2 separate regions of the Homo sapiens genome follow, and region 1 is linked to region 2. The links come from fine-mapping of genetic effects on plasma protein levels. Region 2 holds a variant in brackets. A gene starts in the other region. All regions are shown on one strand. Distances are from middle to middle.

Region 1 (5,374 bases), 17 Mb after region 2:
TGTCTCTACAAAAATACAAAAATTAGCCAGGCGTGGTGGCAGGCACCTGCAATCCAAGCTACTCAGGAGGCTGAGGCAGGAGAATCGATTGAACCCAGGAGGCAGAAGTCGCAGTGAGCCAAGATCATGCCACTGCACTCCAGCCTGGGCGACAGAGGGAGTCTCTAAAAAAATAAAATAAAATAAATTATAGCATCTCCCAATTATGGCATGCAATGCAAGCATAACATGGGATTAATGGACTCAAATCACTGGGCTGTATTATGGGAGATAAAGCAAAGAGCAGAGACCAGCCCCCTTCTTCTGGAAAGGTACTATCACCTCCACAATTACTGTTTCTGTAAAGGTAAATGTTTTAGGCTTCAGGGTCCATACAATCTCTATCACAGCTCCTGAATTCTGCCATTACAGCTCAAAAGTGGCCATAGCCAGGCACAGTGGTTTACACCTATCATCCCAGCAAGTTGGGAGGCCCAAGCAAGAGGATGACTTGAGGCCAGGAGTTTGAGACCAGATTGGGCAACAGAGTGAGACCTCGTCTATACAAAAAAAATCAAAAAATTAGCCAGGTGTGGTGGCACATGCCTGTAGTCCCAGCTACTCAGGAGGCTAAGGTGGGAGGATTGCTTGAGCCCAGGAGTTTGAGTCTACAGTGAGCTATGATTTCACCTGTGCACTCCAGGCTGAATGACAGAACAAGACCATGTCAGAAAGGAAAGAAAGAAATGAAGGAAGGAAGGAAGGAAGGAAGGAAGGAAGGAAGGAAGGAAGGAAGGAAGGAAGGAAGGAAGGATGGAAGGGAGGGAAGGGAGGGAAGGAGGGAAAGAGGGAAGCAGGGAATGAGAGAGGGAGGAAGGAAGGAAGGAAAGAAGGAAGGAAGGAAGGAAGGGAGGAAGGGAGGGAAGGGCAATAAACAGTAAGAGACAAGTGGACGGAGTTGTTTTCAATAAAATTCATTCACAAAAATAGGCGGCAGCCTGCAGGCAGGCCTTAATTTCAGTACAATGTATACTACACATGGTGTGTTGGCTGAGGGAGGGAACGTGTATGTGTTATGCACACACAGAGTCTCCCCGAAGGAACACCCAGGAAACCATTTGTGAGGTCCCTCCTGGGAAGGGAACTAGGGGAAGGGAGTAAGGAAGAGATTTTTACTCTTACACCCTTTTGCATCTTTTGAATTTAGAATACTGTAAATTCAAAAGATGAATTTGTTGTATATTTTGAATTGATTTATCTGTTGAAAAAGATCACTCAAATCGCTGATTTTTTTCAGGTATGTAAGTCTTGGAGAGAAAGCACTGAGAAAGGGGGCTCCATCTAAGGGTCTCACCTGGATCCCTGAAGCTGGACCACGCTCTGCCCGAAGCCCCTTGCGTTCTCTTGGAAGGTCATTGCGTTTTCAGTGTCCAAGTTGAACCCATGACATAAGGTCAAGGCTAAAGGGAGAATGGGGGAAGGATCAAGCAGAGGAAAGTAGCATGCCAGTTAGGGGCTGTAGTCCTAGCACTTTGGAGGGCTGAGGCAGGAGGATCACTTGAGCCCTGATTGTGCCACTGCACTCCAGCCTGAGCAACAGAGAGAGATCCTATCTCAAAATTAAATACAAAAAAAAAACAAAAACTAATAATAATTTAAAAGAAAGCAATGGCTGGGTGTGGTGGCTCAGGCCTGTTATCCCAATAATTTAAGAGGCTGACGTGGGAGGATCACCTGGGCTCAGGAGTTTAAGACCAGCCTAGGCAACACAGTGAGACCCCATCTCTACAAAAAATAAAAAATTAGCCGGGTGTAGTGGTACTCAGGAGGCTGAGGTGGGAGGATTGCTTGAACCCAGGAGGTCAAGGCTGCAGTGAACCATGATCATGCCACTGCACTACAGCCTGGGCAACAGAGAAAGACCCTGTATCAAAAAAAAAAAAAAAAAAAAAAGATAGCAGCATGTCTTCCTGCTCCATTCCCTTTCCCATCCATTCGGTCACCCTAACTAACCCAGCATCCAGATGTCTGCCTCCCAGGTCCAGCTCTGTTAGCCTGGGGCGGGGATTAGCACACTTATTCTGTAAACAGCCAGATAGTAAATTTTAGGTTTTGCAGACCAAGAGGCTGATAGAATATGTTGTACAAGTACTTATATAACAAGACAGAAAATACTTTTCCACAAATTTGTCATTAGGGAAATTTCAAACATAATGATTGAGTACAATTTGTTTGTAATACGGGTTTACAAATGAGACAAATAGAATTCTTTGGGGGTGGTGCTCCCTATCATCAAATCGATTATCAGTGTTCATCTTCAATCTCTAGCTGGCAGGTTGTGCAAAAACAGGTCGTGGGCCATATCGGGCCCCCAGGCCACTGTTTGCTGACTCCTGACCTAAGAACCACCGTCGTGGGGCACGTCCAGTCCTGCTCTGAATTCCAGCCTCCCTTCTGAGCACCTAAATGGCTTCTTCCCCCGGTGTCACAACGATGATTTGCCCAACAGTGAAGTTTCTATACATTCTTAATTAGATAATTTCCTTCCTATGCAGCTCTCAAGTATTTCCTTCCCTTTTGAGGAGAATTTCATTTTCCACAACATATAAGCATAAAAGGTAACAAACTCAAATCATTTTCATTCATCAGTCATTCAACAAACATTTGCACCCGGGACCTTGGAAAATAGAACCGGAGGCAAAGTGGAGATGGTGAGAGGGGATCCAGGAGGAAGCACTCAGGAAAGGGGTCTCACACCTGCTGCGCACCCTGAGCCATGTCACTTCTCCTCCCTGGGCCTCCGTCTCCTCATGTGTGAAGCAAGGGGACCGGCAAGCAGCCTTGCACAGTCCATGAATGTGGTCATTCATCCAGGCTTCCCTGGCCAGCCTGTCTGGGTCTAGCTGTTCTCCCTGCTTCTTCTTGAACCCTTTCTCCTTCCCCAAATCCCCTTTGCCTCTCCCCAGACTGACTCCTACATATTCTGGGCCCTCTATTTATGACAGACCCAAAAGTTACCCTCCTCCCCACCCAGAGTCCCCCACCCCACCCCCATGCACCTGTTAACAGAAGGACTCTGAGAGCCATGGCTGGAAGGAGCCAGAACCTGGAAGGAGGTGAACCAGGGGTTGCAGGCACCACTGAGGAACCACAAGGAAGCCACCAAAGCAAAGAAGGGCAGAAAAGGAGAAGTAGGAGGCAGAAGTCTATCAGAGATTCAAAGGAAGAGGGCGGAGGCTCAGTGAGCACATAGCCCTGCCTGGTCTTCCGCCCAGGACTGCCCACAGCCTGCCCACCCTTCCTCCCCAGCTTCCTGACCCAAACTTTCAAAGTCAATACCACTATCCAAAAGGTGCCATTTGTCACCCACTTGTTTCTTGGGTTGGCCCAAGCATATGAACAAGCTGAACAGACTTAGCCTGCCTCCTGGAATTCGTGTTCTAAACATTAATACGGGCCAGGCGCAGTGGCTCACGCCTGTAATGCCAGCACTTTGGGAGGCCAAGGCAGGAGGATTGCTTGAGCCTGGGAGTTTGAAACCAGCCTGGGCAACATAGAGAGACCCTGTCTCTACAAAAAAATATTTTTAATTAGCTGGGCATGGTGGTGCGCGCCTGTAGCCCCTGCTACTGGACAGGCTGAGGTGTGAGAATTACTTGAGCCCGAGGTCCAGGCTGCAGTGAGCTAGGATCACACCACTGCACTCCAGCCTGGGCAACATAGGGAGACCCCGACTCTACAAAAAAATACATTTAAAAAATTAGCCAGGCATGGTGGCACATGCCTGTAGTCCTAGCTACTCCAGAGGCTGAGGCAGGAGGATTGTTTGAGCTCAGGAGTCTGAGACTGCAATGAGCCTCAATAATGCCACTGCACTCCAGCCCAGGTGACAGAGTGAGACTCTGTCTCAAAAAAAAAATTAAATAAATAAATAAGCAAACATTAATACAGATCAAACAAGTGTAGGAGGTAAAACTCTGTGTCTTCCTGAAAACACACTTTGCAAAATGTCCCTCCTTCAGCCCATGGAAATGGAAGCGCCCTTCAGCCAGAGCTGTCCTCATTTGTAGCCATCAACAAAGACAACTCAAGTACAGGCATACCTGGTGCTTTTTAAATATTATTTTGTGCTTTTTTTAGAGACAGAGTCTAGCTCTGTTGCCCAGGCTGGAGTGCAGTGGTGTAATCACAGCTCACTGCAGCTTCAATCAACCTCCTGGGCTCAAGCGATCCTCCTACCTCAGCCTTCCGAGTAGCTGGTACTACAGGCACATGCTGCCATGGCCAGCTAATTTTTTTTAAATTTTTTGTAGAGACAAGATCTTGCTATGTTGTTCAGGCTATTCTCAACCTCCTGGACTCAAGTGATCCTCCTTCCTCAGCCTCCCAAACTGCTGAGATTACAGGTGTGAGCCACTGCATCCAGCCTATTTTTGTGTGTGTGTGTGTGTGTGTGTGTAAAGGCCTCAAGCTCTTCACCCAAGAATTTTCACTTCTAGTAATTTATCCTAAGAATAGTTAAGAAGTGTAGTCAAAAATATATGTACAAACTTGGCTGGGTGCGGTGGCTCATGCCTGTAATCCTAGCATTTTGGGAGGCTGAGGCGGGGTGGCTCACTTGAGGTCAGCAATTGAAACCAGCCTGCCCAACATGGTGAAACCTCATCTTTACTAAAAAGACAAAAAAATTAGCCAGGCGTGGTGGCAGGCACCTGTAATCCCACCTGGGAGGCTGAGGCAGCAGAATCACTTGAACCCTGGAGGCGGAGGTTGCAGTGAGCAGAGATTGTGCCACTGCACTCCAGCCTAGGCGACAGAGCAAGACTCTTATCTCTAAAAAAAAAAAAATATATATATATATATATATTTGCAAGCTTGTTCATTGCAGCATTATTGTTAATATGAAAAGCTAAAAAAACCTGAATATTCAACAGAGGAATGGTTCAATGATACTTCACTCTGTGATATATCCTTACCCTCCCCTGTGTCTGTCACTTTTAATTCTGTTTTCAAAGGCACAGGAAAATAGGTATCCTTCCACACATACATGGAACACAAACCTCACCTTTATGTGACCGCCAATGTGATTCTCAAGCCAATGATTTTTTTCACTCTTTCTCAACACATTTTCTTTTTTTTTTTTTTTTTTTTTTTGTGAAACGGAGTCTCCCTCTGTCGCCCAGGCTGGAGTGCAGTGGCGTGATCTCAGCTCACTGCAACCTCTGCCTCCCGAGTTCAAGTGATTCTCCTGCCTCAGCCTCCCGAGTAGCTGAGAATACAGGTGCTTGCCACCACGCCTGGCTAATTTTTTGTATTTTCAGTAGAGACAGGGTTTCACCATTCAACACATTTTCTTTTGCCTCTAGTTCTACTTTCCCGATAACTAGATGGAAAA
Region 2 (5,374 bases):
GAACCTTTTAAAACTCTAGAATGTCTTAAAGATATCCCCAACACAATGATCCCTGATGCTCTATTTCTATTTTCATCCTATAACTTTCCTTCAAGGAGTCTATAAAGCATCAACTCAAAGTGACAAGAAGTGGACACATATTCTAAGGGAGCTCCCCAGGACAAAAGGAAGATGGAGGAAATGGTCTCTGAAGGTATGTGTGAAGGTGCTAGACAGGAAGTTGTCCCTGCCCAGCCCTGGTCACAAAAAAAAAAAAACCTCTTTCATCCCAGCCACATCACAAACAAAACAGAGACATTTTGCACATCACCAATCAGTCTGGAATGACCTTTATGACTTTGGAATTGTCCTATCTCCTTCTATTCTCCACCATACCTACTTTATACCTTTCTTCAGTAAAAACTTCTCAATAACCTTTGCCATCTGCTGTGGGGAAACCAAACACGGAGAAGTCACAGTTGCTGTGCAATTTAGTTATGGAGACAAGACAGGGAGACCTTTAACAAAGAATAAAAATGAGGGGATGCTGGCCCAACTGTATCCCTTGTGCATATCTAAAAATAAAGGGGATCAGTGTGTAGATGAGTGGATTAAAACAAAAACAAAATAAGAAAATAAAAGTAAAGGGGAAATTAGCATAAGTTCTCTTGCAAAAAAAAAAAAACCAACCTGAGATTTTCTGAAAGTGTACTCTTTAGATTGGCTCTTGAAAGAAATGAGGGCTGGCCATGGTGACTCACGCCTGTAATCCCAACACTTTGGGAAGCCGAGATAGGCAGATCACTTGAAGTCAGGAGTTCGAGACTAGCCTGGCCAACACAACGAAACCCTGTCTCTACCAAAAATACAAAAAAAGTCGCTGAGCTTGGTGGCAGTAGTTCCAGCTACTCAGAAGCCTGAGGCAGGAGAATCACTTGAACCTGGGAGGCAGAGATTGCAGTGATCCGAGATTGCGCCACTGCACTTCAGCCTGGGTGACAGAGTGAGACTCCATCTCAAAAATAAATAAATAAAAAAGAAAGTGGCTGGGCACGGTGGCTCATGCCTGTAATACAAGCACTTTGGGAGGCCAAGGGGGGGTGGATCACCTGAGGTCAGGAGTTCGAGACCAGCCTGACCAACAGGAAAAAACCATGTCTCTAATAAAAACACAAAATTAGCCAGGTTTGGTGGCATGCGCCTGTAATCCCAGGTACTCGGGAGGCTGAGGCAGTGAGAATCACTTGAACCCGGAGCCAGAGGTTGCAGTGAGCCAAGATCGCGCCATTGCACTCCAGCCTGGGCAACAAGAGTGAAACTCTGTCTTAAAAAAAAAAAAGAAGAAAGCAATGAGGAGGTAGACTGGGGGAAAGACGGCCTTCCTAGTCGGGAAAGCAGCAGGGTATAAAGGAAGGAATAATGAACGGAGAGTTAGGAGAGCTTGGGGTGCATCCAAGCTATCTTGAACTGGGGTTTGCATCTAGGGCATGGGGTGGCCCAGGGTCTGTGAGGTCATTTTCTGATACTTATAGTCGATGGTTAACTTATGATTCTGTGATGGGTTTGGAATACAGATCTGCCAGGCTTGTGCTCCTGGTGTGTGTTATGTCCTTCCACACCCTAGTAGGATGGTGTCAATGGGATCAAAACTTTGCATGTGCCCCTTCCTCTGCCTGGAACTCATCTCCTCTGAATCAAACTCCATTCAGTAGAACCTTCTGGGATGATGGAAATGTTCTATTAACCTGCATTGTCCAGTACAGTAACCACTAGTTAAATGTGGGGATTGAACCTTTGAAATGTGGCTAGTGTGACTGAGGAATGGAATGAATTTTTAATTGTATTTATTTATTCATTTTTGCTTTTGAGTTTTTTTGTTGTTGTTCTTGTTGTTTTGAGACAGGGTCTTGTTATGTTGCCCAGGCTAGTCTAGAACTCCTGGGCTCAAGCGATCTTCCTGCCTCAACCTCCCAAAGTTCTGGGATTATGGGCACAAGCCACTGCAACCCACTGTATTTAAGTCTCATTTATTTATTTATTTTTGTTGCCCAGGCTGGAGTGCAATGGCGAGATCTCGGCTCACCGCAACCTCTGCCTCCCAGGTTCAAGCGATTCTCCTGCCTGGGATTACAGGCATGCGCCACCACGCCCGGCTAATTTTGTATTTTTAGTAGAGACGGTGTTTCTCCATGTTGATCAGGCTGTTCTCAAACTCCCGACCTCAGGTGATCCGCCTGCCTCGGCCTCCCAAAGTGCTGGGATTACAGGCATGAGCCACCTTGCCAGGCCAAGTCTAATTTATTTAAATAGTCACGGGGGCTAGTGGCACCTATACTGGGCGGCATGGCTCATGGTTTGCTCCTTTGCAATGTTCAGCTATCGATCATCTTCTCAGAGAGGCTGTTCCTCAGGATTGCCACCTGTGGAAGGCAGAATGCCCCCCCAACCCCCGCCAAAAACATACACATCTAAATCCCTGGAACCTGTTACCTTACCTGCCAAAGGGGTATTAAGGTTGCAGATGACATCAAGTTGCTGCTGAGCTGAC[C/T]CTGAAATGGGAAAGTTCTCCTGAATTTTCTGGATGAGCCCATCTAATCTTTTGAGTCCTTAAAAGGGAAAAAGAAGTAGGTAGAGAAGTAGATGAGCTATAGAGATGAGAGAGATGAAAAAGGAGAAAGATTAGAAGTGTGAGGCAGGCCAGGCGCAGTAACTCACGCCTGTAATCCCAACACTTTGGGAGGCCTAGGCGGGCAGGTCACCTGAGGTCAGGAGTTCGAGACCAGCTTGACCAACATGGTAAAACCCCGTCTCTACTAAAAATACAAAAATTAAAGAAGTAGACATAGGAGACTCCATTTTGTTCTGTACTAAGAAAAATTCTTCTGCCTTGGGATGCTGTTGATCTATGACCTTACCTCCAACCCGGTGCTCTCTGAAACATGTGCTGTGTCCACTCACGGTTAAATGGATCAAGGGCAGTGCAAGATGTGCTTTGTTAAACAGATGCTTGAAGGCAGCATGCTCGTTAAGAGTCATCACCACTCCCTAATCTCAAGTACCCAGGGACACAAACACTGGGGAAGGCCCCAGGGTCCTCTGCCTAGGAAAACCAGAGACCTTTGTTCACTTGTTTATCTGCTGACCTTCCCTCCACTATTGTCCTATGACCCTGCCAAATCCCCCTCTGCGAGAAACACCCAATAATGATCAATAAAAAGTAAAAAAAAATAAAAATAAAAATAAAAATAAAAATACAAATACAAAAATTAGCCAGGCATGATGGTGGGCGCCTGTAGTCCCAGCTACTCAGGAGGCTGAGACGAGAGAATCACTTGATCGCTTGAACCCGGGAGGCGGAGGTTGCACTGAGCAGAGATTGCGCCACTGTACTCTAGCCTGGGCGACAGAGTGGGACTCTGTCTGAAAAAAAAACCAAGAAGTGTGAGGGGGAATCACCCTCCGTGGTTGGCTTTGAAAATGGAGACAGGCAGGCTCTGTCAACCAAGTGCAGTGGCCTCTAGGAGCTCAGAACAGGCCCTCCATGGACAGCCAGCAGGCAAACTGGGCCTCAGTCCTACAACTGCAAAAAACTGAATTCTGCCAAAAACTTGAATGAGCACAGAAACAGATTCTCCCCGAGAACCTCCAGAAAGGAGCATGGTCTGCTAACACCTTGATCTTAGTCCCATGAGACCCACACCAGACTTCTGACCTATACAGCTGTAAGACAATACATTTGTGTTGTTTAAAGCCACTAAATCTGTGGTCATTTGGGCCGGGTGTGGAGGCTCACGTCTGTAATCCCAGCACTTTGGGAGGCTGAGGTGGGAGAATAGCTTGAGGCCAGGAGTTCAAGACCAGCCTGGGCAATACAGCAGGACCCCAACTCTACAAACAAATAAAAAAATTAGGGCCAGGTGTGGTAGCTCATGCCTGTAATCCCAGCACTTTGGGAGGTCAAGGTGGGCAGATCACCTGAGATCAGGAGTTCGAGACTAGCCTGACCAACATGGAGAAACCCCATCTCTACTAAAAATAAAAAATTAGCTGGGCGTGGTGGCGCATGCCTGTAATCCCAGCTACTCAGGAGGCTGAGGCAGGAGAATTGTTTAAACCCGGGAGGCAGAGGTTGCAGTGAGCCAAGATCATGCCATTGAACTCCAGCCTAGGCAACAAGAGTGAAACTCCGTCTCAAAAAAAAAAAAAGAAAAGAAAAAAATTAGCCAGGTGTGGTGGCATGCGCCTATAATCCCAGCTACTTGGGAGGCTGAGGCAGGAGAATCACTTGAACCCAGGAGGCGGAGGTTGCAGTGAGCTGAGATCACGCCATTGAACTGCAGCCTGGGCAACAAGAGTGAAACTCCATCTCAAAACAAAAATACAAAACTTAGCTGGGTGTGGTGGCTCACGTTTATAGTCCCAAACTCTTGGGAGGCTGAGGTGGGAGGATCATTTGAGCCTAGGAGGTCGAGGCTGCAGTGAGCTGAGATCACGCCACTGCACTCCAGCCTGGGTGGCAGAGTGAGACCCCATCTCTAAATAAATAAAAATTTGTGGTCATTTGTTTCGGCAGCAATGGGAAACTAATACTCCACCCTAGACTGGCTCTAGGCCCACCCTGGTGGGGCCCCTAAGGAGTCAGGAGTCTAAGGACCCAAGGAGAGGTGCCCCTATGGAGGCCTCTTCTAACATCAGTGAGCTGCTCAATGGCCCTGGTCCTGCACTCATGGCCCACATGTGCCTCCTCTCTCGTTCTGTCCTCCAGAGGGTGAACAGGCCTCAGATGAGCACCCCCAGGCCTGAGGGGAAACACATCAATGGGTGTCTGTGCGGGAACAGGTGAGGCCTGAGCTGGGACACTGGGCTTCAGTGTCCACATGGACACATGCAAGTCCCTTTGATGTATGAGACATGGCAAGGCAGAGGAGGGCTGGGAAGAAAAGTAGCTCAGGAGCAGGGCTCAGGGTCGGCCTCTGCTCTCTGGGCTGCTGGGTGGAACTCTGGGAAGGCTGTGGATTTTATTTTTTACAAATTTAATTTATAATTTATTTTAAAAATAGAGATGGGGTCTCACTATGTTGCCTGGGTTGGTCTAGAACTCCTGGGCTCACGTGATCCTCCTGCCTTGGTCTCCCAAAGGTATGGGATCACAGGTGTGAGCCACCTCACCTGGCCAGTCTGTGGATTTTAAATTCAAGTCAGATCTCCCAGGTGTTTGTGAGGGTATATGAAGGAGAATAAAATATATATTTCTCTCTTTTTTTAGAGACAGGATCTTCCTCTGTTGTCCAGGTTGGAGTGCAGTGGCATGATCTCAGCTCATGGCAGCCTTGACCTCTCAGGCTCAAGTGATCCTCCCACCTCAGCCTCCCAATTATCTGGGACTACAGGCGTG

Which allele goes with the higher level. Positions count from the first base shown, and alleles are read on the strand shown. Strength reflects both the effect of a copy and how common the allele is.
For the plasma level of the protein whose gene starts at base 3,156 in region 1, allele T in region 2 goes with a lower level than allele C (weak association).

The links. PIP is the posterior inclusion probability: the model's chance that the variant is causal. Protein levels are from antibody-based Olink assays in UK Biobank. Linkage for the fine-mapping came from a reference panel and not from the study's own genotypes, which makes the PIPs less certain.
Region 1: ITGAM starts here. The variant in region 2 is fine-mapped to the plasma level of the ITGAM protein (UK Biobank, PIP above 0.99).

Annotation. Positions count from the first base shown.
Region 1 is chr16:31,257,757-31,263,130 of GRCh38, reverse strand. It overlaps ITGAM (integrin subunit alpha M), which reads right to left and starts at 3,156. Exons shown (of 30, transcript NM_000632.4): 1 at 3,039-3,156; 2 at 1,334-1,439. The coding sequence starts at 3,066. RefSeq lists an enhancer at 3,300-3,399.
Region 2 is chr16:48,398,389-48,403,762 of GRCh38, reverse strand. No RefSeq gene overlaps it. Among named protein-coding and RNA genes, the nearest start is that of SIAH1, 16 kb to the right of the region's middle. RefSeq lists an enhancer at 3,944-4,689. The variant C/T (reference allele first, on the strand shown) is at 2,528.